7 linked regions of the Homo sapiens genome follow. The protein of the gene in region 6 purifies or fractionates together with the protein of the main gene of each other region. This does not show direct contact. Each region holds a gene or a part of one and is shown on either strand. Other genes may lie near its edges. The genes, in order: NISCH, PDP1, CETN3, CDC26, DCAF6, PNOC and LNPEP.

Evidence for each region.
Region 1: the proteins of PNOC (region 6) and NISCH purify together in Homo sapiens (co-immunoprecipitation; 2 studies listed by BioGRID and IntAct, with this or other methods). This does not show direct contact.
Region 2: the proteins of PNOC (region 6) and PDP1 purify together in Homo sapiens (affinity purification with mass spectrometry; one large-scale study listed by BioGRID and IntAct). This does not show direct contact.
Region 3: the proteins of PNOC (region 6) and CETN3 purify together in Homo sapiens (co-immunoprecipitation; 2 studies listed by BioGRID and IntAct, with this or other methods). This does not show direct contact.
Region 4: the proteins of PNOC (region 6) and CDC26 purify together in Homo sapiens (affinity purification with mass spectrometry; one large-scale study listed by BioGRID and IntAct). This does not show direct contact.
Region 5: the proteins of PNOC (region 6) and DCAF6 purify together in Homo sapiens (affinity purification with mass spectrometry; one large-scale study listed by BioGRID and IntAct). This does not show direct contact.
Region 7: the proteins of PNOC (region 6) and LNPEP purify together in Homo sapiens (affinity purification with mass spectrometry; one large-scale study listed by BioGRID and IntAct). This does not show direct contact.

Annotation. Positions count from the first base shown.
Region 1 is NC_000003.12:52,476,104-52,479,603, reverse strand, and holds part of NISCH (nischarin), read right to left. Parts: intron 3,158-3,500; coding exon 3,005-3,157; intron 2,031-3,004; coding exon 1,962-2,030; intron 1,508-1,961; coding exon 1,322-1,507; intron 1,156-1,321; coding exon 1,027-1,155; intron 1-1,026. UniProt on the Homo sapiens protein: Acts either as the functional imidazoline-1 receptor (I1R) candidate or as a membrane-associated mediator of the I1R signaling.
Region 2 is NC_000008.11:93,919,923-93,923,245, reverse strand, and holds part of PDP1 (pyruvate dehyrogenase phosphatase catalytic subunit 1), read right to left. Parts: intron 2,020-3,323; exon of another isoform or gene 1,883-2,019; intron 1,231-1,882; coding exon of another isoform or gene 1,187-1,230; coding exon 1-1,186. UniProt on the Homo sapiens protein: Mitochondrial enzyme that catalyzes the dephosphorylation and concomitant reactivation of the alpha subunit of the E1 component of the pyruvate dehydrogenase complex (PDC), thereby stimulating the conversion of pyruvate into acetyl-CoA.
Region 3 is NC_000005.10:90,396,257-90,399,756, forward strand, and holds part of CETN3 (centrin-3), read right to left. Parts: intron 3,294-3,500; coding exon 3,102-3,293; intron 309-3,101; coding exon of another isoform or gene 237-308; intron 1-236. UniProt on the Homo sapiens protein: Plays a fundamental role in microtubule-organizing center structure and function. As a component of the TREX-2 complex, involved in the export of mRNAs to the cytoplasm through the nuclear pores.
Region 4 is NC_000009.12:113,269,533-113,272,572, forward strand, and holds part of CDC26 (anaphase-promoting complex subunit CDC26), read right to left. Parts: intron 3,017-3,040; 5' UTR 2,976-3,016; coding exon 2,895-2,975; intron 1-2,894. UniProt on the Homo sapiens protein: Component of the anaphase promoting complex/cyclosome (APC/C), a cell cycle-regulated E3 ubiquitin ligase that controls progression through mitosis and the G1 phase of the cell cycle.
Region 5 is NC_000001.11:168,072,683-168,076,336, reverse strand, and holds the end of DCAF6 (DDB1- and CUL4-associated factor 6), read right to left. Parts: intron 967-3,654; coding exon 902-966; 3' UTR 501-901; downstream 1-500. UniProt on the Homo sapiens protein: Ligand-dependent coactivator of nuclear receptors. Enhance transcriptional activity of the nuclear receptors NR3C1 and AR. May function as a substrate receptor for CUL4-DDB1 E3 ubiquitin-protein ligase complex.
Region 6 is NC_000008.11:28,337,768-28,341,267, forward strand, and holds part of PNOC (prepronociceptin isoform 1 preproprotein), read left to right. Parts: intron 1-879; exon of another isoform or gene 880-1,021; intron 1,022-1,272; coding exon 1,273-1,677; 3' UTR 1,678-1,724; intron 1,725-3,500.
Region 7 is NC_000005.10:96,939,080-96,942,579, reverse strand, and holds part of LNPEP (leucyl-cystinyl aminopeptidase), read right to left. Parts: intron 1-3,500. UniProt on the Homo sapiens protein: Release of an N-terminal amino acid, cleaves before cysteine, leucine as well as other amino acids. Degrades peptide hormones such as oxytocin, vasopressin and angiotensin III, and plays a role in maintaining homeostasis during pregnancy.

The sequences.
Region 1 (3,500 bases), on a different chromosome or scaffold from region 6:
GTGGGCCAGGCCACGTGAGGACACCATAGGCTGAGGGAGGCTCAGCCTGCTCAGAGGCGGCTCTTCACTACTCATGGAAGTGACCTGGGAATGCCTTGGAGGGGTCCAGGGAGGTCTCACATCTGTCTCTGGAGTCCCTCACCAAGAACAGGAGGCAGCAAGCTCTTGGGCAGCTGGGACTAGGGTAAGGGGGCAACTTGAACTAAGCCCCCAGTTAGAGGTGGGAGGCAGACTCTCAAAAGAGCGATGGGAGAGCCTCCTGGGTAGGGGAACCAGCGGCAGGAGAGGGCAGGGCCCCCGCCTGCAAATGTGGGAGGGAGTGGTGGCTGGCAGGCAGTGGGGGGTTGGGTAGGGTGGTTGAATGAGGGAAGGTCCCAAGGGCCTGGACAGGAGCTGACACTCTGTGGCCTGGGAGCTTCCCAAAGTCTGCAGCCCAGGAGGGGAGGAGATGGCATCTCATGGTCTTGTGACTGTGTGGAGGAAGGGGCACTTGCGGCCACAAAGAGGGAGGTGGGACACAAATAGACTTCCAGGTATTTTCTGACCTGGGATTTTGGGAGAACAGAAGGTCCAAGGACCAATCAGAGCATCACGGGGACTGCTCCAGGCCCAGGCGATGGGTGAACCTGGTTAAGGGTGTCTGGTCAGCATCGTGGCAGGTGCACAGACACCGCGAGGGGCAGCAGACACCAGGCTGGGCTACACTGGCAAAGGCAAACCCTTTGGGTTTACAGTCAGGCACTATGGCCACAGGTTGTCCAGGAGATATGAATATTTTAAGGATCTTATTTCTGACCCTTTCCTAGAATAAACAATGTTATCCCAGACAGTAGGGGCAGGAGATGCAAGGGAGCTTTTTCCTGGGGAGATAGTGGACTTCCCAGAACTGAAAAGCCCCTAAGGGACAGGACCTCTTTCTGAAGCAGGCAAGGGTAGAACAATGGACATATATCCCCCTACCGCCCATGCAGACTTGACTGCATCCCGAAGGTCTCCCTGGGCTCTTCTGACTGTGCTGGGGCTCACCTCTGAGGCCCTCTCTCCGAACTGAGCCAGCACCTTGGTCCGGTAGTCGGGGATGATGCTCAGAGGGTTGTTCAGCAGAGACACGTGCTCCAGACACGGGAGGCTGCCTATGCTCCGGACCTCCTCCATCTGCAAGGTATGAGTTCCATCCCCTTTGGTCCCTTCTCTTAACACTTCAGCAACACGCCAACACGTTTCATGGTCTCTTTTAAATGAAAGGAATCTTAACATTCTTCTTTAACATGATACACACCAAGGCACAGAAATCCCAAAACTGTGAGGTCCTTGGGCTCACCTGTTCGATCCTGTTGTCCCGGAGATCCAGGTTGACCAGTGAGTAGAGCTTGTGCAGGCCACTCAGACTCTCTAGGAGGTTGCCTGCCAGGTTTAAGGTCTTGATGTTCCCCAGCTTGGTGTGAAGCCCTTCCAAGGAGGAGAGCTTGTTGTAGGACAGGTCCAGATGCACAAGGTTATACAGGTGCTGCAGCGGCGTGGAGAACAGCGTAAAGTGGCTCAGGTCAAGTCTCCAAAGATAGGGGCCTGACACTAATGGCAGGATGGGCCTTCCAACCCAAACTACCCAGTTCTGCAAGTCACTCTGACAGTTATTTTAGGAAGGGAAGTCCCTCTTCTCTGCCGCACATGCCACAGCACAGTGGCACCCCTGCAGACAGTTGGGGTGGGCGTTGAAAACATGGCTGTCCACCTTCAGGACGGAGGTGCATCATCATGCCTGGTTTGTATTTACTCATGCTTCCTAATTCTTTGGAACTAGAGCAACAATCACTCAGTGCATTGCTGGGATCCTAAAGCGAAGACAGCAACCCCTGCCCTTACAACCCCTGGCCAATTCCCAAGGCTGCGTCAGTCTCCTGAAATCTCAGGGCGGGGCCTTGGGAGTGTGTGCGGGCAGCACTGGTCTCCAAAGGCACTACCTGCAGATTGTCCACAACCAGCAATCCATTGTGACTCAGGTCCAGGAACTCAATCTTTGGGATCAGTTTCTTGTGAAAGAAAAGAACACCCGATGTTACTGTAGGGGGCTGGACCCCAAACACGGTCCCCGACACAGTGGACGGGCACCCCAGGACGCTTCCTCCCGACCATGGACTCCCACGGGCCGTCCCTGCAGGACCACTGGTGGGACATCTCCCGCTGCCCAGCCAGTAGCACATCCAAAGGCACACACAGGGCCCCCAGTGCTGGGCACTACTCAGTTTTCATGGAACACTTGGCTTGTGAAAATGACACACAGCAAGGTCCCAGACAGAGAAGAGAGTCTGTTCTTCTTCAACCCTGCCCACACTCCCTGAGCAGCGCAAACACGGGAACGACACTCTTACTGCCCAAATGCCCTCTGGGTGTCATTCTTTCATGGGCACATCTGTCATCTAAGGAGTGATTTTTCTGCTCCACTCTTTGGAGCAAATGTCATCATTTAGTGTGTTATAGTTTACCAAATTTACATGAAATTATTATGTTTTATTTGGTTCTAAGTACTACCTCACCAATTTTAAATGATCCCATTTTTTTTTCTTCTTTTGAGACGGAGTCTCACTCTGTCGCCCAGGCTGGAATGCAGTGGCCCTATCTCAGCTCACTGCAACATCCGCCTCCCGGGTTCAAGCGATTCTCCTGCCTAAGCCTCCCAAAGTAGCTGGGATTACAGGTGTGCACCACCACACCCAGCTAATTTTTGTATTTTTAGTAGAGATGGGGTTTCACCACATTGGTCAGGCTGGTCTCGAACTCCTGACCTCAAGTGATCCTCCCGCCTCGGCCTCCCAAAGTGCTGGGATTACAGGTGTGACCCACCACGCCCAGCCCCCATTTTGTAATTAACTTAAAATGGCAGGCAATGCACAGAGCACTAGATATAGGTTTTCCGTGGTCCTTCCTAAAAAAGCTGAGTTAAATACTCAAACTCAGGGTTTGGTGGGGCCAGAGAAACCCCTGGCACCTGCTGCTGAGAGCATACCACAGACTCGTCGATCTCGGAGACGCTGTTGTGGCTCAGGTCAAGCGTGGTCAATGCCTGCCAAGTGGGGATGACGGCAGTCACAGGGCCTTCTAGGGTTGTGCCTTCAGGCTCCCACTCATCAAATTCTGAGGCTTCAGGAACAAGGACTTCCTGCATAAAAACATCTGTGTGGAGCACCACACTCGGGCCCTCACGCAACACTCACTGGGAACACAGTCGTTGCAGAATTTAAGGAAGGGCTGGAGCATATTTAGCATGTGGAAGTAAACTTGCATTAAAGCATGCCTTTGGTTCCTATGTCTTTAAACGATTGTGAAATCGTTCAAAGCTGAACAATTTACCACATAACAGCCACTTAGAATTAAGTCCTGGCCCTGCTTTAGGAGCAATGCTTTTCAAGCCCAAAGGGCCTTTGCCCTGGTGACCTGGTGATGCCTTTTCTAGCCTTTTCTCTTTTTTGAGATGGAGTCTCGCTCTGTCACCCAGGCTGGAG
Region 2 (3,323 bases), about 66 Mb from region 6:
TGAGATAAGGAGGTGTGTGATAATTAGGAGGAATAAACTTGGTATATTCATTGTCATTCAACTGGTCTGGGCCAGATTCTATCACTCTCTTTTGAAGGTCAATGCTCCATTTGAACTTTACATCTCCAAATGCCCTAAATGGCATCAGCAAGCCAAGCAGCCGATCCTGTTTCACGACACTCTTGGCCTCACTCTTTGGATGTTCCAATTTCAGCCGTTCTAGTTCTCTTTCATTTTGAGCATTGTGGTCATTAGACAGCGTGACTGCTGACCATGAGCCGTCCTCTTCCTGCACACCCAGCATGGCTCTGCTATCGCCAGTATTGGCCACATGAAGGTCAACACCATCCACATGGGCCACACAAGCAGTGGCTCCAGAAAATGCCACTCGAAGCACCAGGTAGTTGAGAAAAGAATTAGGATCACCAACTTGCGCCTCCAAGGAGATGTCATTATCAAGCCTCTTGAAGGCATTAATTAGAGCCTCCTTAACATCAATATCAGTCGACTCACCAGTGTTGAGGTCTATAAGCTCTTGCCAGTAAGTCCTCAAGCTGTTAAAGTACAATTTGGATGCCTCCTTACTAAAGTAATCATTGGGGTGCTTGTGCCACTGGAGAATGGGTAGCAGTGCCCGGCCGCTCTCCACTGCATTTTCAATCTCTAGCAAAGTCTCATGGGGTAACAAAGAGACAGCAATATAATAAAAGAGTCTTTCACTGACTGCCTGGGAACAAGCACAACCTGCATGGCCATCAAAAACCCCCAAAAGCATCCCTCTGGTCTGCAAGCAGGTTGCTGCACTTCTCCGGTCCTCAATGGGTGCATTTGCAGGCAGCTGATTGCTGTCAAATCCAAGGATAGAACTGACATTTTTGCCGTCAAATTCTGGCACTTTGAAACTGTATTCATTAGCTTTAAGGATGCTATTGACTTGTGGAGGTGTGAGGTAAAATTTCTGTGGTGTGGAAGCATATCTCCTTCCTTGGGTGTACTGCCACCAGTTCTCCTTTGGCCTGCAAAAGGTAGCATATGCTGGATGAGGTGTGTATCTCAGTCGACTCTGAGGAATGTACGATGAGGAACAACAGAGATGTTTGTGGTGGCAGTAACATGCAGTGCCATAGATCCTGCTCAGTTCACAGTTACGGATGAGAGGAAAAAACAGTTGAGTTGGTGCTGGCATGGCATCAGAGAACAGTGGCAGGCTGGAACTTCTGACTGGGATTCCTAGACAGCAAATTAGACAGATGTACACAAAGGAAAGAGTTACATTTCAGGATACTTAATCTAGCTTTGCCTTTATAACAAATATTAAGCAAGTCAATCTACATGTTAAGCCTTTGCTAGAAGGTACTACATTTTATACACACATCATGTACTATTTCTACAGGGTATATTCTGGCAGGCACAACTCCCAATCATTCGTGGAACCACGACTGAACTCCTGGCTCCTATACTCAAACTTCAATTTTCTCTTTTCTTTGTCGTCCTTTGTGCAGTACAAACTGTGCAGAATGTACAACAGATTTGGCTGGGGAAAGCTGAGGAGATGAAGGTTATATAACATTATGCAGTAGCCGTCTACCTGACCAATCATCCTTCTCCCTCCCTATTCTTAAAAAATGCCTTGAAATCTCCCATTTTACACAGGGACTTCTTCCATTTATGAAGACCCTTTACATAGACCTGTGGTCAATTTTTGGCATGATTACACATGGCTATGACCAAAAATGTTAAGAGGCAGCCAAACATATGTGTATTTATGAATTACGTGTACATCATATACATATATGACTACAGTAATATGCATTGTAACATATATAGAAAAATTTCTACATAATTAAATAAAAAAAGAAATTCCAGTATTTCTCTCCTGTACCCCAGTAGATGGTCTTGCAAAACTTGCTTCTCTAGTCCACTGTGGCAATTTGCCAGGCTAACGGGCATAGGTCTGCCACCAACTCCCAAATAATCTTGGAAAAGTCAGCTCACATCTTTGAGTCTCACTCTTCTAACCTGTAAAGGAACATCAACAGAGCAGATGCTATCTAAGGCTCTTCTAGGATTCATGCCTTTATGCTTATGGAAGTGAGGTTTTTAAATAAAATTCAGGTTTCATTTATTCACTGTTGAATTCTACCGTGCCCTTCATGATTAAAAAAAAAAAAAAAGTTTAAGTATTGCAGTAGCTCTAAAGCTTTGTTAGTAACATAAATGGTTTCAGTCCTAGAACTTAATTTACCTACTAACAATGTTCCCTGCTTAGCAGCTATAAGGAAAACCCATAGAAGTATTTTCATCTACTATGGATCCAAAGTAGAATTAACCCCTAGAAAAATGTTTTCTTGGATATGGTAATCACTCTGATTTGATCATTACACAATGTCTACCAATATATACATGCACTGAAACATCACATTGTACCCCATAAATATATAATATTATGTGTCAATTGTAAATTAAAAATAAATTTTAAAAGACCAAAAATGTTTTCTCTCACATTAAAAAAAAAAAAAAAAGGTATTTACTTGCTCCAGGGAAGCAGTATAGTCAAATAATAGTCTAAGGTTTGGATTGAAAAGGTACAGCAATATAATTACAAACTTAAAAAAAATCCTATCACTCACTATGTGCGCTGAAAATAATTTCTGGGCATTTATTTGGGAAATTTAATGAATATATCATTAATCTAGATAATTTGGGCAAGAAAAAAAATCCCTCTTCTTCCTCAATAACATATATTTTCCCTGAATTCTTGAGATACTGCTTCAAAATAGTCATTTGTACTATAAAGAAACACTTTGGAAATACTTTAAATAAACAAATGCAATAAACAAAAAGGAACACAGAAAATAAAACCATCTGAGTTAATAGCAACTATTCCTTCCCACGGCTAAACAAATATCATAGCATGTGTCAGCCATATATTATTTTCATGTACCTTTTTTGAAGAATAATTTGAGAAAAAGTAATAAATTGGGGTAGAGGGAAGCAAAGAAAACTAAACACTGAATAATCACTGATTCTTGTTTGTTTCTGTAATAAGCACTGCATAAGCCAGCCACACAGATTCTCTTCTGCAAGTAGTAGAAAGTACCATCATTTTAACTGCACTATCTAAGAAGGGATTTGTTTACGAAAATGAAGACAAGATCAGGCAATAGAAAGTAATGGCTAAAATTTTGGAAATAAGAATCCGTAACTAAAAAAGCATTCTGAAATGCACTAATGAAAAACAGAAATTCCAGAAAAACGGGAATCCATCAGGAGTAACCATTTAAATAAAAGAAATTCAAACTGAATACCTGAAAGTCATCCAG
Region 3 (3,500 bases), on a different chromosome or scaffold from region 6:
CATGCAATCAGTATTTAACATCTACAAAACACTATGACAAACATGGTAAGAACGTAATACAAAATCTGTAATACTCCAAACTACTTTCAAGAATCTTACAAATTGATGTAGTGATCTTTAACCTTTGCAGTTAAATAGCCATGTCTGAATATCTTAGGAAAGCTATGATCCCTCTCTCTTTCCAATAAATACAGTTCAAATATATAAAATTATTAATCAGTTTAGCCAGTGTGCACCTTCACTGAAGAACTCCCGATTTAGACTGAGGCATCTAGACCAAATAGGAAGCAAGAGTATGTTCTTAAGAACTGTATTAAGAGAAAAAACATAAAACAGCCTTAGAATGATTTGATTACAAATCATTTTAACAGTGTAATACATCCATGATTAAAATATTCAAAATCCAAAAAGTACTTGTTACTTAAAGATCTAGAACTTTTTCTTGATCTGTAAAATTTCAATACTCAAACTGCAAATTTTAAGTTTCATATATAAGTTTGAAAACCACAAAACACTTAATTTTTATATTGTTTATATACAAAAACTTTAAACTATAATAGCATTTCAAAAGTATTTAAAATACGGTCAGCCTTCTGTAACCACAGGTTCCTCACATCTGCAGATTCAACCAACTGCAGATGAAAAATATTTGGGAAAATAACACAATAAAAAATAATACAAATAAAATAAAGTATAACAATTTACATAGCATTTACATTGTATTAGGTATTATAAGTAATCTAGAGATGATTTAACGTATACAAGAGGATATGTGAAAGTTATATGAAAATACTATGCCATTTTATACAAGGGACTTGAGCACCATAGATTCTGGCATCCTTAAGCGACTTGGAACCAATCCCCTGTGCTTATCAAGGGACAACTGAATTCCATGATTCATACCTAAAAACACACTACTTAAACCCAAGAAAGTAAAAATTAGAAAGTGGCTCAGGAAATTAAACTAGCTACTTTACTTTAATTGTCTTGTAGACAATTAAAAGACAATCTTCTATATCTCTGTGCATTTGATTTTATAACCTTCTCTATTAACAATATCTTATATCAAGTTCCTATATCTAATAAATCTACCACAATGCCTAGCTTAAAATAAGCTTTGGTAAAACATTTATTGAATCAAGAAAATATGACACTTTGTTTCCTTTTATACTGCCTTCTTTAACAAAATTTTTCATACATCAACCATTTCATAGAGCAAATCTTATTACAAGTTGCTAACAATAAGAATTTTACAGAACTAAGTAGATTAAGTACCTTAGAGACCATCTGGCTTTGAAGGGGAAAAGCAAATCTTAGAATTGGAAGTTCCAACTGAGTATGTTGCTAATACACTGCTTCCTATAATAGCATGTAATTTTTAAAACTCCATAAACATAGAAGTCTAGTTAATATTTTACTTCATAGCCCGAAAGGCAATACAATATTACGTTTAAAAGCACATTCTTTGCCATTTTGGAGATTTGATTTTGAGTTCTGGCTCTACCATGTACAGTATTAGCTTTGTGATAACCTGGGCAGATTAATAATCTCTCAAAGCTTTAGCTTCCTCATCTCTATATATGCATCTATTATACACATGTATAGGTATAATACTATATCTACTTTACAAGTTATTATGGAAATTAAGTGACATAATTAATGCTAATATCCAATATAGTAGCTGCTAAATAAATGTTAAAAAACATCATCATTATTTAAAAGATTATCCATTCTGGCTTTTCAAAACGTTCCTTTCATTTTTTCCAAAAGATGTGCTGTGTTTTATTTTATATATGCTGTTGAGGGGGCAGGGGGAAGTGACTCTTTCTGTATCATTACCACAGCTTTATGTCTATCTTGTAGTACATCTTATTTACCTTTAACTTCACATTCACCATGTTTATTATTCTATATACCCAATATTTTTAAAATTTCATTGCTCTTAGATACTGAAAAGCATGAAAAAGTCACAAAGAGAGAAGAACACTAAAGTCCACAAAAAAGACAGCAAGGTCTAATCTTTAGCAGTTTAACATACAAATAAAGTGGTTTTTATCTCAACAAAACTTAGTTTCCAGCCAAAAGATTCCATATTAAGTGTATGAAAGTATCAAAACAATTTGTTTCTCTAAATGCTATAGGCCTTCAATGGAAGTCTCATGATTCATAGAGCGTTATGGGAAGCTTTTGGGAAAAAGATGGTGTTTAATATTTACCTGAGAGAATGAATCACATTTTAGCAGGCAGAAATTAACAATTAGAGCATTCTAAGATTAAGAAACAGCAGGATGAAACGAATAGCATAAAAATGTGTTTTCAGGATAGCATATGTTGACAAAATGTGTACATACAGGAGGTGAGGGTTAAAGAAGAAAAGTGAAAGAATACACTGGAAAGTAAAATCAGTTACTCAAGGTGGGATAGATCATAGAAGGCTTTGAACTTTACTCTGTAGGCACTGAAGAATCGTTTCAAGTGTCTAAACACAGAAATGGCATTATCAAATGTATATTTTAGGAAAAGAATGATACCAAGAGACTGAAGAAGAGATTAGAGACTTTTATATGCCGAAAGGGCAATTAGGACACTACAAGAGACTGCAAAGTGAAAGCAAGAACCACATCTGCCTTTTTCATTGTGTAGCACCAGTCAACACGCAGGACACTGCACCCAGTAGGCAGCCAAGGCAAGAATAAATGAGGCCATTATAACATTCCTAACTAGAAATTAGGGCCTGAACTAGGACAGCCACAATGGACAAAGATAAAAACAGATTCAAAACATTTGAAGGGGAAAATCAATAGAACTTAGAACTTAGCATGTAGGTTGAGGGAGAAGCCATTAAAGACTGAAATTATATTGAAAGGCTGAAATTTTGGTGGTTTCACCTTCAGAGAAAAGTGAAGGACCTTCTTGAAGTATAATTGGTTTTAGAGATCTGCTTCATTCTAAATTGAATATGTGAATTATTTAGACAGAAGGTCCATTACAAGAAGCAGTTAAGTTTACAAAAAAGTCTTGCAAGTCATTTGGTTTTAGAAAAATGTATTACATGTGTAGCATCAGGAAAACCTGGAAAATACGTTTCACTTAAAACTTACTTTCTCCATCACCATCTTTGTCAAATTCTTCTATCATAGCTCGAAGTTCTTCATCACTCATGTTTTCACCCAATTCTCTAGCAACACGTCGCAAATTCCTCAAGCTTATTTTACCTGAATCATCATCATCAAATAGTTTAAATGCCTTGAGTATTTCTTCATGGGGATCTCTTTCCAATATCCAGTCTGTCACTACAGTTTAAAAACATATATATTTTAATAAACCTGCATAATCACAAAGGCATTCATTTGTGAAATCAACTAAATATTAGATGAGAATTAAAGCTGTGACTGTCAACTTTTAGTCTGACAATAAAATGTCAAATGAGATCCCCAAACCCCGAGATAAACCTGAAATTAGAAAAATCAAATCCATATTTTAAATGTTAACCTTTTTTA
Region 4 (3,040 bases), on a different chromosome or scaffold from region 6:
CTGGTTTCACTTTAGGGCATGACTGTCCCTGCTTCCTAAGTTACTCTAAAACAAGGTAAAACCCACTAGATAACTGTCTTTAGTGGAAAGACTAACTCAATAGTGAGCTGACTGTAGAGTCAAAGTTCAGCATGCTAGCATTTTATGAGATTCGTTACAACTGAAGTTTAAGCCATACTTTAAAGCTCATGCTTAATAATATATGAGTTTTTAGAAAGCAAAAATTACGATACTTAGAGAACACTAAAGTCTCTTGGGATGAAGCAGGGGGAAAGAAATCTAAGTTATTAGTCTTAATATGAAGCATATACAATACATAATAAAGCTGTTGGTGAATATATGCAAAACGTACTGTCCTCTGCCATATAGTACAAGATACCTACTAGGACAGCAAATGAAAATAGACTTGCATTGAGCCCTCCTTTGGACCTGGTATTGCAGGGAACAGATGCAGAGAGAAATATACTAATCCCTGACTTCAAGGAGCTTATGGCCCAGTGAGGGAAAACAAAAGCAAACAGACAATTACAACAGAGAGTGACCGTGCCTATGAGAGAGGTTAGCACAGGAGGATAAGGTTGAGCCTAACCCAGCTGGGGGCTGGAAGGAGTAAGAGTTAGCCTGGCAAAGAAAAAGAAAGGGCTTTTCTGGCAAAGGGAACACTGTGTATAGGCACTGAGATTAAAGATAACCCAGCAGTGAAAGTGGAGAGATAAGCAAGGACCAGCTCACAAGGAGCTCATATGCCATGCTAGGGAATTTGGAATTTATTCTGTAGACCACTGAAGAATTTAAGTCTTATTAATGGACATCTAATACCATGTAGCAAGGCCACAGTTAAAAATACATATGGGGCCCCTACTATGAACTAGATGGTAAGAACTCAATGGTGAAGCAAACAGACATGATTTCTGCAATCAACGTCCCTAATGTAAATGATTTTACAATAAAAAAAATTGTAAATTATAATAAATGCTATGAAAAAAATATGGTGCTTTGTGAGAGCCTACAGAGATGGAGGCAGCATGGACGGGAATGACACATGAAACTTGGATACGGTCAAAAGTGGCCTCTTAAATTGAAGAGTTGACATTTGAATGAAGACTGGAAGAAAGGGAGCACTCCAGGCAGGGGGAAATAATATGTGGAAAGTCCATGGAAGTGATAAATAGATTGGCATGTTCAAGGAAATGAAAGAGAGCCAATGTGGCTAGGGTATAGAGAGCAAGGCAAAGAATGGCACAAAATGAATCTGGAGAGGCACTAGAACATACAAAATCTTGTAGGCCATGGTGAAGAATTCAGATTTTGTTATAAGTGCAGAAAACTACTGAGGAGTTTTAAACGGGAATGACAGGATTTGAAAATTTCTGAAGATCATTCTTGATACTGGATGCAGAATGCACTGAAAGAGACAAAAATGGAAGTAGAAGACCAGTTAGGATGCCACTACAATTATACAGGGAAAGACGGTTACTTAGCGCAGGACTGTAACAGTGGAGATGAAAAGGTATGGGTGGATTCCAGACATATTCTGAAGGTAGAATCAAAGGGTCTACAGACAGATCGAATATAAAGCGTAAGAGAAAGGGAGGACTCAGGAATGACTGCTAGGTTTCTGGCCTGAGGAACTGAATCAATACTGAGATGGGAAACACTGGGGAAGAATGGAAGGGACGACTGGTTCAAGGGAGAAATCAAGAGTTTTTCTCTCTTCTTTTTTTAACATGTTAAGTGTAGTAGGCTGAAAAATGGCCCCCAAAGCTAGCAGGTCCTAATCCTGGAACCTATAAATGCCTTATATGGGAAAAGGGCCTTTGCAGGTGTGACTAAATTAAGGATCTTGAGAAGGGGGGATTATCCTGGGTTAGTCAGGTGGGCCCTAAACACAATCACACATATCATAAGAAGGAGGCAGAGGAAGTTTTCACAGACAGAAAAGAAGACAATATGACTCTGGAGGCAGAGACTGGAGTGATACAGTCATGAGTCAAGGAATGCCAGCAGCCACCAGAAGCTAGAAGAGCCAAGGAATGGATTCTTCCCTAGATCCTCCATAGGGAATGTGGCCCTCCTGACACCTAAATTTCAGCCCAGCAATACTAATTTTTGGCCTATAAAACTGTGAAATAATAAATTTCTGTTGTCTTAAGCGATGAAGTTTGTGGTACTTTGTTACAGCAGCCACAGGAGACATACATGAAGTTTGAGATGCCTGTAAAGCATCCAAACAGAGATTTCAAATAAGCTGTTGGCTTAAGAGTCTGCAGTTCAGAAGTTAAAGTTATTGTGTATGTATGTGTGTGTATATACATATTTATGTATGACAGAGAGTCTCACTGTTGCCCAGTGTGGAGTACAGTGGAGCCATCATAGCACACTGTAACCTCAAACTCCTGGGCTCAAGCAATCCTCCCGCCTCCGCCTCCTGAGTAGCTCAGGCATGCGCCACCCTGCCCAACATAGAGACAAGGTCTCACTATGTTGCCCAGGCTGGTCTCAAACTCCTGGCCAGAAAATGCTGGCATTACAGATGTAAGCCACTGTGCCCACACAAGAATTATTATCTTAAATATTCCTTAAGCTTTGAAAGTTGTATTCATGGCTGGGTGCAGTGGCTCACGCGTGTAATCCCAGCACTTTGGGAGGCTGAGGTGGATGGATCACTTGAGGTCAGGAGTTGAGACTAGCCTGGCCCCAACATGGCAAAACCCCAACTCTACTAAAAATAAAAAAATGAGCTGGGCGTGCTGGCATGAACCTGTGGTCCCAGCACGCGGGAGGCTGAGGCAGAGGAGGCAGAGGTTGCAGTGGGCCAAGATCATGCCACTGTACTCCAGCCTGTGTGACAGAGCGAGACTCCATCTCAAAAAAACACAAAGTTGTATTCATACCTCCAGGTCCTTTCGAATGTTCTCAAACTCTTCAATGTCATCAAGCTTTAGCTCTAGGCGTGTTGGTTTCCGTCTCAGCATACTGAAGTCAACACTAAGGGCCAAACCCAGTGAACTATTAGCTGTTAAAAATGAAAGAGAGGAGG
Region 5 (3,654 bases), on a different chromosome or scaffold from region 6:
GACCAACGCCTCCTTCTTCCTCGGCCTTCTCAACAGTGAAGACCTTTATGATGATCCATTTCCACCTAGTGAACAGTAAATATATTTTCTCTTCCTTATGATTTTCTTAATAACACTTTTTCTGTAGCTTACTTTATTGTAAGAGTATAGAATATAACACATAAAATATACAAAATATGTGTTAATTGACCATGCTATCAGTAAGGCTTGCGATCAACAGGCTGTTAATGGTCAAATTTTTGGGAAGTCAACAGTTACACATGAATCTTCAACTGTGAGGGGGGCTGGTGCCACTAACCCCTGGGTTGCTCAAGGGTCAGCTGTACCGTGGAAGGAGAAATGAAGGAAGTCCTTCTATGTGATTCTATCCCACACAAGCAAAAAAGGAAAAGGTTGTTAAATCTAGAAAATATAGAAAAATAGTCATCGTATGCTACAGGAGAGATTGGAAAACTGTGGGTCAAAGTAGCAAGGCATTAAATAAAAAGTCAAATTCAGGGTATCTTAAAACAACCAGTTTCTTTAATTAGAAAGCAACAAACATGCAAATGGCAAGTGTAGAAATTTATTTGAACCAACATTTTCACTATGATGAAAATTATTCTTCAACATTGATCCAAGCTCCCACATTTGAAGGTTAGGGAAAATATTGCACTTTGCATTTTCTAGCACTCCTCATACACGGCAAAAAGTTTTAAAAACATTCTGCTAGTTTTGTTTTATACAATCTCCCAAATTCATGCACACAATCATTCCAAACCAATGTTAGGTTATCCCAAAAAAAGGGAAAAACTCCAAAAACCATAACCTTAAAATTGCACTAAAGCTCTGTAAAGAAAAAAATATAATAAATGTCTTATACAAATTTCAGAACATTTAAGTGCTTGCCAAAAAGAGTTTATTATTCCTCATCCTCATTTTCATTCTCTTGACCAGAGCCTTCTGATCTGTCACCCTCCAACCGGTCTGGAAACACAGATAAGAGAATCGCAAAGAGAAATACTTTTAGTAATTACAATTATTAATATTTTTCAATGCCTTTTATTTAAAACGCATTAAAAATCAGTTCACCACTATGTGTGGATGTCTTTAGAGGCAAATAAAAGAGTAAAGAAAACACAGTATTATTAGCTTTGATTATGCATGTTATTCTAAAACATGTAAAAATGAAAAAAGAAACCCACTCCTAAAATCTTGATATATTATGTTCTACTGCAGTGGTTGTCAAACAGTGTTCTTTGGAGTCTAGGTTTCTAAGGAGGTACATCAGGTGCTGCAAAGGGGAGTGAGGAGGCAGCTGTGTGAGAGAAAATATGTGGACGATTGTTGAGGATTTGTGTAATTCTGTTTGTAAAAAGATTTTTTTAAATTAAATACTATGTTCCAGGCATTGTGATAAAACCTGAGAATACAATGGTGACCAAAACAGATGTAAATTTCTGGTCTCAAGGAGCTTATTTAGGTTAAATACTCAAGTGAATATAAACTTACAAACTGGTGAGTACAGTATGCTCGTTCAAGTTTTCAGGAATTACACTTGCTATTCCTCTGCTTGGGATACTTTTGCCCAATTCTTTAGCTATAAAGGTTTACTCATCTCAATACAACTATTATACCCTTGGTGAAACTTTTCCTGGACATTTCCAAACAGGCTATCTGCAGAATTATGAACTCCCTCCTCCACATTCTAGAATATCTTATATGAACTTCATAATGATGATCCTAATTACAGTAATAGTCGTTTGCATGTCTTCCTGCAGACCAGATTGAGAGTTCCTGGAGGGCAGGAGTTACTTCTTTTTATCTTTATATCCTCAGAGCCTAGTATAGGATGTTCAATGAAGGTTTACTGAATAAATGAATATAAGTTTTATGAAGGTAAGATACATTACATAAGGGTATTGTGAAGAAGGCAACAGCATAAAATCACTACCATCACTGAGATGGAACTAGGATGTTTCTGCCCCAGAAACATTTCCACATAGTAACATGGAAAATATTAAGGTTAAGCATAAGGAAAACAGTTCAGTCCCACTGTCAACAGCAAGAGAAGACTGAATCCTGAGATTTTATTTATTATCTACACAGGATTAAATGCTCCCACTGGATCCTAGGTCAACAGCACCAAGAACAGTACACTGAAGGGACTATATGTCCCTTTTAATTGTTTAATTGTCCAAGTGAATTAGATTAAATCTCCTCTATGCCAACTCTAATCCAATGTCAAACCAATGACATAATGTATGTGTAACCTTTATAACCTTAATTATACAAATAGGTATTGAATACAAATAAGTATTCAATTCCTTACTGATCTATAAAGGTCTATTCAAATCTTATTTTGTTCATTTATTTTATAAATATGTATTCAATACATATTTATAAAATAAATGAACAAAATAAGATTTGAATAGACCTTTATAGATCAGTAAGGAATTTAAACACAGTAGAAGAATTTCTGACCAATAAAAGGCTACCTAAGGGATATTAGTATAAAAAAAATTACATTGTTTTTATTGTGTGATACTTTCAAGAGAGAACAAAACATGAAGTTGCTATTCTACTTAAGTAGGGCTCAGGAATGGGAATCCTGAGTATGACTGAATATATTCAAGAAACCTATCCTGTCATGTTAGAGCATGATGAAGCAGTAACGGCCTATCTCAAAGTTGGCAGGCTTCTTACTCAAATTTCTTTTGGTTGTCACATTATAAAGAAGATGGGATAATAGAGAGTTAAGAAAAAAATGTCACAGCCTTTAAATCAGGGAGTTTGCAGTAGAGGTTAGACTTTTACACTCAGAGGCACACAATAAAGAGACAAATGAGGGCCAAGAGTCTTACGATAGGTCACAGAATAAGTGACAGTGGCTTCTGAAATGAGGAAAGCAGAATAGTTGTTCTCTCCTCAAATTCAATTCATTTAACTGATGCATAGTCACCTCTTCCAGAATGTAAGCCCAACTTCTCAGAATTAATTAAATCTTCTGTTCATGAAATGCTACTGAAGTAGTAAGGCTGCAAAGCAGTTAACACTTATACAAATCTCTGGTTGGCAATTATAGACAAGGAGGTCTGAAGAACAGTGTGTTCTCTTAAATAAAAACTGGAAATAAGAATCACTTCTATGTATACTGTTTTTCTTTTTCTTCTTTTTTTTTTGAGACCGAGTCTCGCTCTATCGCCCAGGCTGGAGTGCAGTGGCGCGATCTTGGCTCACTGCAACCTCCGCCTCCCGGGTTCAAGCGATTCTCCTGTCTCGCCCTCCCGAGTAGCTGGGACTACAGGAGCGTGCCACCACACCCGGCTGATTTTTTTGTTTTTAGTAGAGATGGGGTTTCACCATGTTAGCCAGGATGTCTATGTATACTGTTTTTCAGAAGTAGCAATGTCAAATTGCTTTTGTAAATAAGGTTTACATTTGTAGAAAGGTTCCTTTTATTCTGTTAGAATATTTCTTCAGGAAACTGGGGAAGATAATGATATGAAGAGACACTGAGTTTGCTGCAGAGGGAGGGAAGGTAGATAAGAAAAAAATTTCCCAATGGAAGCCTGTGTTTCACAAAAAACACTGTTGTTTTATTTTCCAGGCTACCCTTTACAAAGAATTTATTTACTTTCTTTAAAAGAAATAATACAAATTCATTGTTAGCTA
Region 6 (3,500 bases):
TTTTTAGTAGAGATGGGGTTTCACCATGTTAGCCAGGATGGTCTCGATCTCCTGACCTCGTGATCCACCCGCCTCGGCCTCCCAAAGTGCTGGGATTACAGGCGTGCGCCACCGCACCCGGCCTACACTTCCATTTTTATGTCGTCAGCTACTTATGGCTCCAAGGAAGCTTGGGAAACATATACGTTGCCTTTAGGAATAAAACAGTGTTCTGTGCATAAGGAGAAGGGGAGATGAATACGGGCCAGTTGCAGCCTCTGCCCCAGAAGGTGACCTGGAAGCCAGGCAGGAGCTCCACGCTATGATGAGGAGCTCTGCCTACTGACTCACAGCAGTAAGGTCAGGTTGAAGTGGGGTTTCCAGCCGGCTAAGGCCAGAAACCTGGACTGAAATTAGGGGTGAAGCCAAAACAGCAAATAGGAAGAAAAGCTGGGGGCAGAGGCTTCCAGGAGACCCAATCAGAACCAAGAACGTGGGAGGTGGGGGGCCAAGGTCAGAACCAGCCAAGAGGGGCTGGAGAAACATCGTGGTCCAGCTGGTGGCTAGAAGTCAGGGTTGGCAGGAGAGGCAGAGCAGAGTGTTCCTAGGAGCCGAGCGGGTCTGCTGGGCTCTGGTCTGATGATGGCATCTCTCCCCACACCTGGAACTGGATCACAGGTTCAGCCCCGCACGTCCAGCCGGCCTACCACCCCACAGGGTCTTGACCCCATTTGCTATAAATGATACACAGATAGTGACGACTGCTGTACGCGGGATGAAAAATTAACAACACCTAGGTAGATCTTTACATGGTGACCTTAAAATAAACCTGCAGATTTGACTACATACTTTCACATCCCCAATTTCTTTAACCCATGTGACCTCCCACAAGCCTGAAGAGAGAACAAAATAAAATTCTTTATGGGTGACAGTCATGAGCTGTGCTTGGCTCCAAAAACCCGACTAAAGATGTAACAAGGTGCGGTGTTGGGCGCATTTATCCTGTGTTAACTTCCTATGTTAACGTGCTGTGACACCAGAGGTAAGTTACGCTCACCTCTCTGAGCCCTGGTTTCTTTGTAAAATGATGGAGCTGGGTCAGATGATTCTCTGTTTGTTTCCAATTCTGAAATTCTACGAACCTAAAACCTGTGTAAAACTGCTCCACGTTACTTGATAACTTAGATGCTTCAGAAGCACTTGCACTGGTGCAGTGGGCCAGATCTCCTCCCTCGCCCTGGATTAACAGAGGTCCTTGTTCCTTCTCCCCTCCTCTCACCCGTATCTTTGCAGGTGTGCATCCTCGAGTGTGAAGAGAAGGTCTTCCCCAGCCCCCTCTGGACTCCATGCACCAAGGTCATGGCCAGGAGCTCTTGGCAGCTCAGCCCTGCCGCCCCAGAGCATGTGGCGGCTGCTCTCTACCAGCCGAGAGCTTCGGAGATGCAGCATCTGCGGCGAATGCCCCGAGTCCGGAGCTTGTTCCAGGAGCAGGAAGAGCCCGAGCCTGGCATGGAGGAGGCTGGTGAGATGGAGCAGAAGCAGCTGCAGAAGAGATTTGGGGGCTTCACCGGGGCCCGGAAGTCGGCCAGGAAGTTGGCCAATCAGAAGCGGTTCAGTGAGTTTATGAGGCAATACTTGGTCCTGAGCATGCAGTCCAGCCAGCGCCGGCGCACCCTGCACCAGAATGGTAATGTGTAGCCGGAAGGGGCGCTCCTCCCAGCTGTACCGGCCACTGCAACCCATGAGTGAGTTGGGCACCAATAAGCTGGGGGCAAGGAGAGACCTCACACACCAACTGTCTTAGCCTTGCTCCCAGGCCTAGAAGCACATTCATCTCCCCGCCCCCTCCCCACTCCACACACACACACCCCGCAAGGAGTCCAGCCCACCCTTTCTCTAGGCAGCAGATTTTCCTATGATTGCACCTTGAAGCTGACCACTTCCGGCTAGAGACTGGTTACCATGGGGATAATAGTAGTATGTTAAGATAACTAATTCCTCTATCACTCCCCAGGAGCTTAGTTACTATGGGGACAGTTAAGTGGACCAATACGCCCATCCAGTTGCCACAGCAACCAGTCAGCTCACCTTTCCTCGAGATTGTCTCTCTAAACACCAAGAGTGGGACCTACTCTTAGCCATTAGCAGAGTCCAATTACCACAGCTATGATGGTGCTATTTCATCTTCAAAGACGGCTTACCTATCCCCTCTCCTTTCCCCAGCTCTCAGGGTGCCTGGCTCCATGGAAACATTAAAGTTTCCCATTTTACCTGGACAAAGAGTTCCTGTTAAGATTAGGAGTTGTGGTTTCTGCTCTTCCTCCTTCCACAAGCCATTTGTCCATCCTGCCACCTTGCCAGAGAGGGACTGATTCCTTGTGGTCAACGGTATCATTACTGAGCAAGACGTGGAGAATTTGGTCCAATGGACCTAGTAGCTACTAGAATATGGACTAAAGGGGTTCATCTTCTTTCCTCCATTTGGCTTCTTTCCAGCGTGCCATTTTTGTTTTGGTTTTGTTTGCTTGCTTTTATTCCTCTCTTTCTTCCTTGTTCTCTCTTTCTTCTGCTCTGTTCCTATACCCACAGGCACCTTATACAAGTCCACATGTCTCATAATATACATCAAATACCCTAACTGATTGCCTGTTCATTCAAAACCCAACTTTCCTTAGGATATCAACCAATACATCACTTTGAGTGGCATTGGCAACCTAGCACAGTAGAATTTTCTGAAAATTTAGGAAACTCCCAACCATCAAGGCTATGTGCCTTAATTTGTATATGGGAATATGATCATCTGCAGAGTCCCATACGTCTCCTTAAATAGCTAAGAAACTTGCCATATTCATCCATTTTGCATTGCTACGAAGGAATACCTGAGGCTGGGTACTTCATAAACAAAGTTTATTTGGCTCACGTTCTGCAGTCTATACAAGAAGCATGGCACCCGCATCTGCTTCTGGTGAGGCCCTCGGGGAGCTTTTACTCATGGCAGAAGGCAAGGGGAGCTGGCGTGCCACATGGCAAGAGGGGGCAAGAGGGGGAAAAGGGGAGGTCCCAGCCTCTTTAACAACCAGATCTCCCACGAACTCATTACCATAGGGTGGGCACAAAGGCATTCCTGAAGGATCCACCCCCATGACCCAAACACCACCCACTAGGCCCACCTCCAACATTAGGGATCACATCTCAACATGAAATTGGAAGAGGACAAACTTCTAAACTGTATCATTGTCCTAACACAAAGAACCAGTCAGATCATCAAAATCACCCCAAAACATTACCCAAGTGGGGCTTTTCCCTGAGTCCGAGCATAAGAGAAAAATGTCTGCATGTGCTATTTTAAGTTGCGTCCCATGTGTCAGAGGTAGCCGTGTCACTAATAACCTTCCTTGATGATCTATTAGTACATATGCTAATGTTTGGTGCCCACACTTTAGCATGGAGACGGCCCCTTTGCAGGTAGGCCAACATGTTCACCACGGGCCTGTTACCAAATATGGACACGTGTATTAAGT
Region 7 (3,500 bases), on a different chromosome or scaffold from region 6:
TGGGTCCAAGTGATTCTTGTGCCTCAGCCTCCCGAGTAGCTGGGATTTCAGGCACGTGCCAACATACTCAGCTAATTTTTGTATTTTTAGTAGAGACAGGGTTTCACCATGTTGGCCAGGCTGGCCTCAAACTCCTGACCTCAGGTGATCCGCCTGCCTCAGCCTCCCAAAGTGCTGGGAGTATAGGTGTGAGCCACCGCGCTGGGCCTAGAGTGATTCTAATTCAGTGAATTGCCACCTCTGGCTTCATGGGCGTTTTTCTGTATCTCCTGACCAACCTGTTTTTTGGTGAGAGCGAGCGGCGGTGAGTCAGGAGCAAGAGCAGGCTTACCACAGCTCCACACCACGTTGTTTATCAAAGAGCTATATTTTTTCTTTAAATCTAAAACATTCAGACAAGTGAACAGTCCCAACTTACGAGTGACTGAATTTTCTGACTATAAAAAAGACAGTATGCTTAAATTTCTGGCAAATGTTTTCTATCTCTTGGCAAGGCTCCCAAATGCCAATCTTAACTCATTTGTCCCCTGAGCCCCCAATTCCATTAATCCAACCAGACCTACCTACCTGTCCCCTTCCAACCTAGACTCTGTCTTCAACCTCATACAACAGTGTCCTGCTCTCCAACTGAAGCTCATTTCTGAACCAAAGACTTGCAAGGATCAAGGCATGACCATTTTTAAAATCTCTGCCTATCAGCTTCTTCCTTTACCCCCAATCTCCACATTTCTTTCATCTTCATCATTGATTCTCCTCTTCCAATTTTCTCTAAACATCTTTGTAAAATGCAAAGTCCTTCAGGTGCTGCTAGGACAATCACAAATGAATTACAACAATGGATAAGGTTACAAGGGAATCCTGTCCACCCTTCCATGGACACAGAGAACTCTTGATGTTCCATTTACTGTCCAGAAACACCAAGGCAATAAGCAACACTCTCTATAACGGCCATATGTAGATCTAGGTCAAGATCTAGATATAAAAAGAACTGTACCACCACAAGGGCTCCAAAATGTCCCTTCATTCTCAATCCTGGCTTCTTGCAAACTTTCAGAAAAGTTGCTGAAATTTATCTACGGATTCAAATTAAAAAAATAATAATAAATAAATAAATAAAAGACTGTGTCTTTCTGGTTGCTCCAATTATACTATGGAAAGGCCTAGTAGTATCAGCTCAACTCCAGCCCCCTACAGTAGGTTTGCCCAACCCCAAGGCCACAGACCAGTACCAGTCTCTGGCCTGTTAGGAATCAGGCCACACAGCAGGAGTGAGCAGCAGGCAAACAAGTGAAGCTTCATCTCTACAGTCAGTCCCCATCGTTAGCATTACCACCTGAGCTCCACCTCCTGTCAGATCAGTGGTGGCATTAGATTCTCATAGGAGCACGAACCCTATTGTGAACTGCGCATGTGAGGGATCTAGGTTGTGTGCTCCTTTTGAGAATTTAATGCCTGATCTGTCACTGTCTCCCACCACTCCTAGATGGGACTGTCTACTTGCAGGAAAACAAGCTCAGGGCTCCCACTGATTCTACATTATGGTGAGTTGTATAATTATTTCATTGTATATTACAATGCAATAATAATAGAAATAAAGTGCACAATAAATATAATGCACTTGAGTCATCCCCAAACCTTCTCCCCTTTAGAATATATCACAAACTAGAAAGTATACATACATCCCCCCGACTGTGGTCCCTGGTCCCGAAAAGTTTGGGGACTGCTGCCCTACAGTTTTCAAGTCATGAGGTGACTAATTGACAAAACATAGCTGCACTGACCTCACCTCGACTGCCAAGAACCACAGGCCTCATCTAGGTCCATCCCAACATCTGGGGTAATCTTGGCTAAACTCTTTCAAATCTCAATTTCCTAATGTTTTCATAGACAGGGTTAATACTGCTGTTTCCTAATAGGAGTATTACACTAAATTAGTAGACATGCAAACAGTTATGAACAGTTTCTGTACATTTATTTCATAATTAGAATACTGTCTTAGACAAAACTTTATTGCTTTTTTATTTCTTCTGTGTTTCCATATTTCATATTAGCATGACAACAAAACTAGGTTCTTCTATTCATTTCTCTTATTTAGGTAAGCATTATCTGATGACGAGGTTGTGGGTTTTTTTTTTTTAATGTAACTGTGTCTAGCAGAAAATCTACTTGTAAATGGGCATTCAAAAGATAGCTGTATGATTGAATTACTGAGCAGAAAATTACCACTTATTTTCTATATAATTTCCTTATAACCAATCTCTCTGGTTATCTATCTTTCAGGCTGAGTTCTCAAGGATAACCTACAGATAAATGATAATCACCGGTTATAAGAGTTTCTAAAATATGCTGTTTTTATGCATGTATCAAGACAGTTTTTGGAAACTGGCAAGTAATAGCAAAGAACTTTTCTACCACTAGTTTCCAGTTAAAAACTGGGCTGTTTCTAGCTATAGCTTTAACCCTAGATTGTTAGTGATGCTAACACTTAATTCCTAACAGTCTTATTTCCCCCAAATAAAATTAAAAACTTAAGACAGAAAGATAAAAACAGGATTTAACTTATATTCCATCACACAGAGAAACTATGAGCTCCTATTTCTTAAGAGTTGTCTTTCAATGTGGAAATTTATCATAGAGCAAAAGAAAAATAAAAACAAAATGTGGTATGCTCACATTTTTGAGAAGTGATGCTAAAAATTTTTTTTTAAAAAGACTCACATATCTATAGAACAATTGTTATTTGTAAGATTAAAAGATGGAATCACAATTTTATACTGTATTACAACCCACAAATATCTCATTTGTTGCCCAGACTTCCCATTTTTGAAGTTGAAAAATACTTTCAACTGGATACCAATCTGAACATGAAAGCAAAAATAATTTTTTAAGACAACTAAGTCCTCCTTGTTTGATTATGCACCACACTGCGGTAATAAAAGTGATTCATAGGACCTACATTCATATGAAAAAAAAAACTATTTATGTTTTCAGTTCTGGGACCTCAAAATGCCAAAATACCAACCTTTAGATATACTTTAGAATATATCACAAACTAGAAAGTATATATACTTTCAGCTGGGCGCGGTGGCTCATGCCTGTAATCCCAGTACTTTGGGAGGCTAAGGTGAGCGGATCACTTGAGGTCAGGAGTTCACCTGGCCAACATGGTGAAACCTCATTTCTACTAGAAATACAAAAATTATTTGGGCATGGTGGCGGGCGCCTGTAATCCCAGCTACTCGGGAGGCTGAGGCAGGAGGATCACTTGAACCCGGGAGGCAGAGGTTGCAGTGAGCTGAGATTGTGCCACTGCACTCCAGCCTGGGCAACAGAGTGAGACTGTGTCTCAAAAAAAAAAAAAAAGAAAGTATACATACTTTCTAGTATGTATTTCATATATAATCAGACCTCCTTAATCAGATTCTGAGGGTGAACCTTAGCATTTGCATTTCTTAAGATGAATTTAAGTTTTTACAAAATATACCAACCCTGCATGCAAA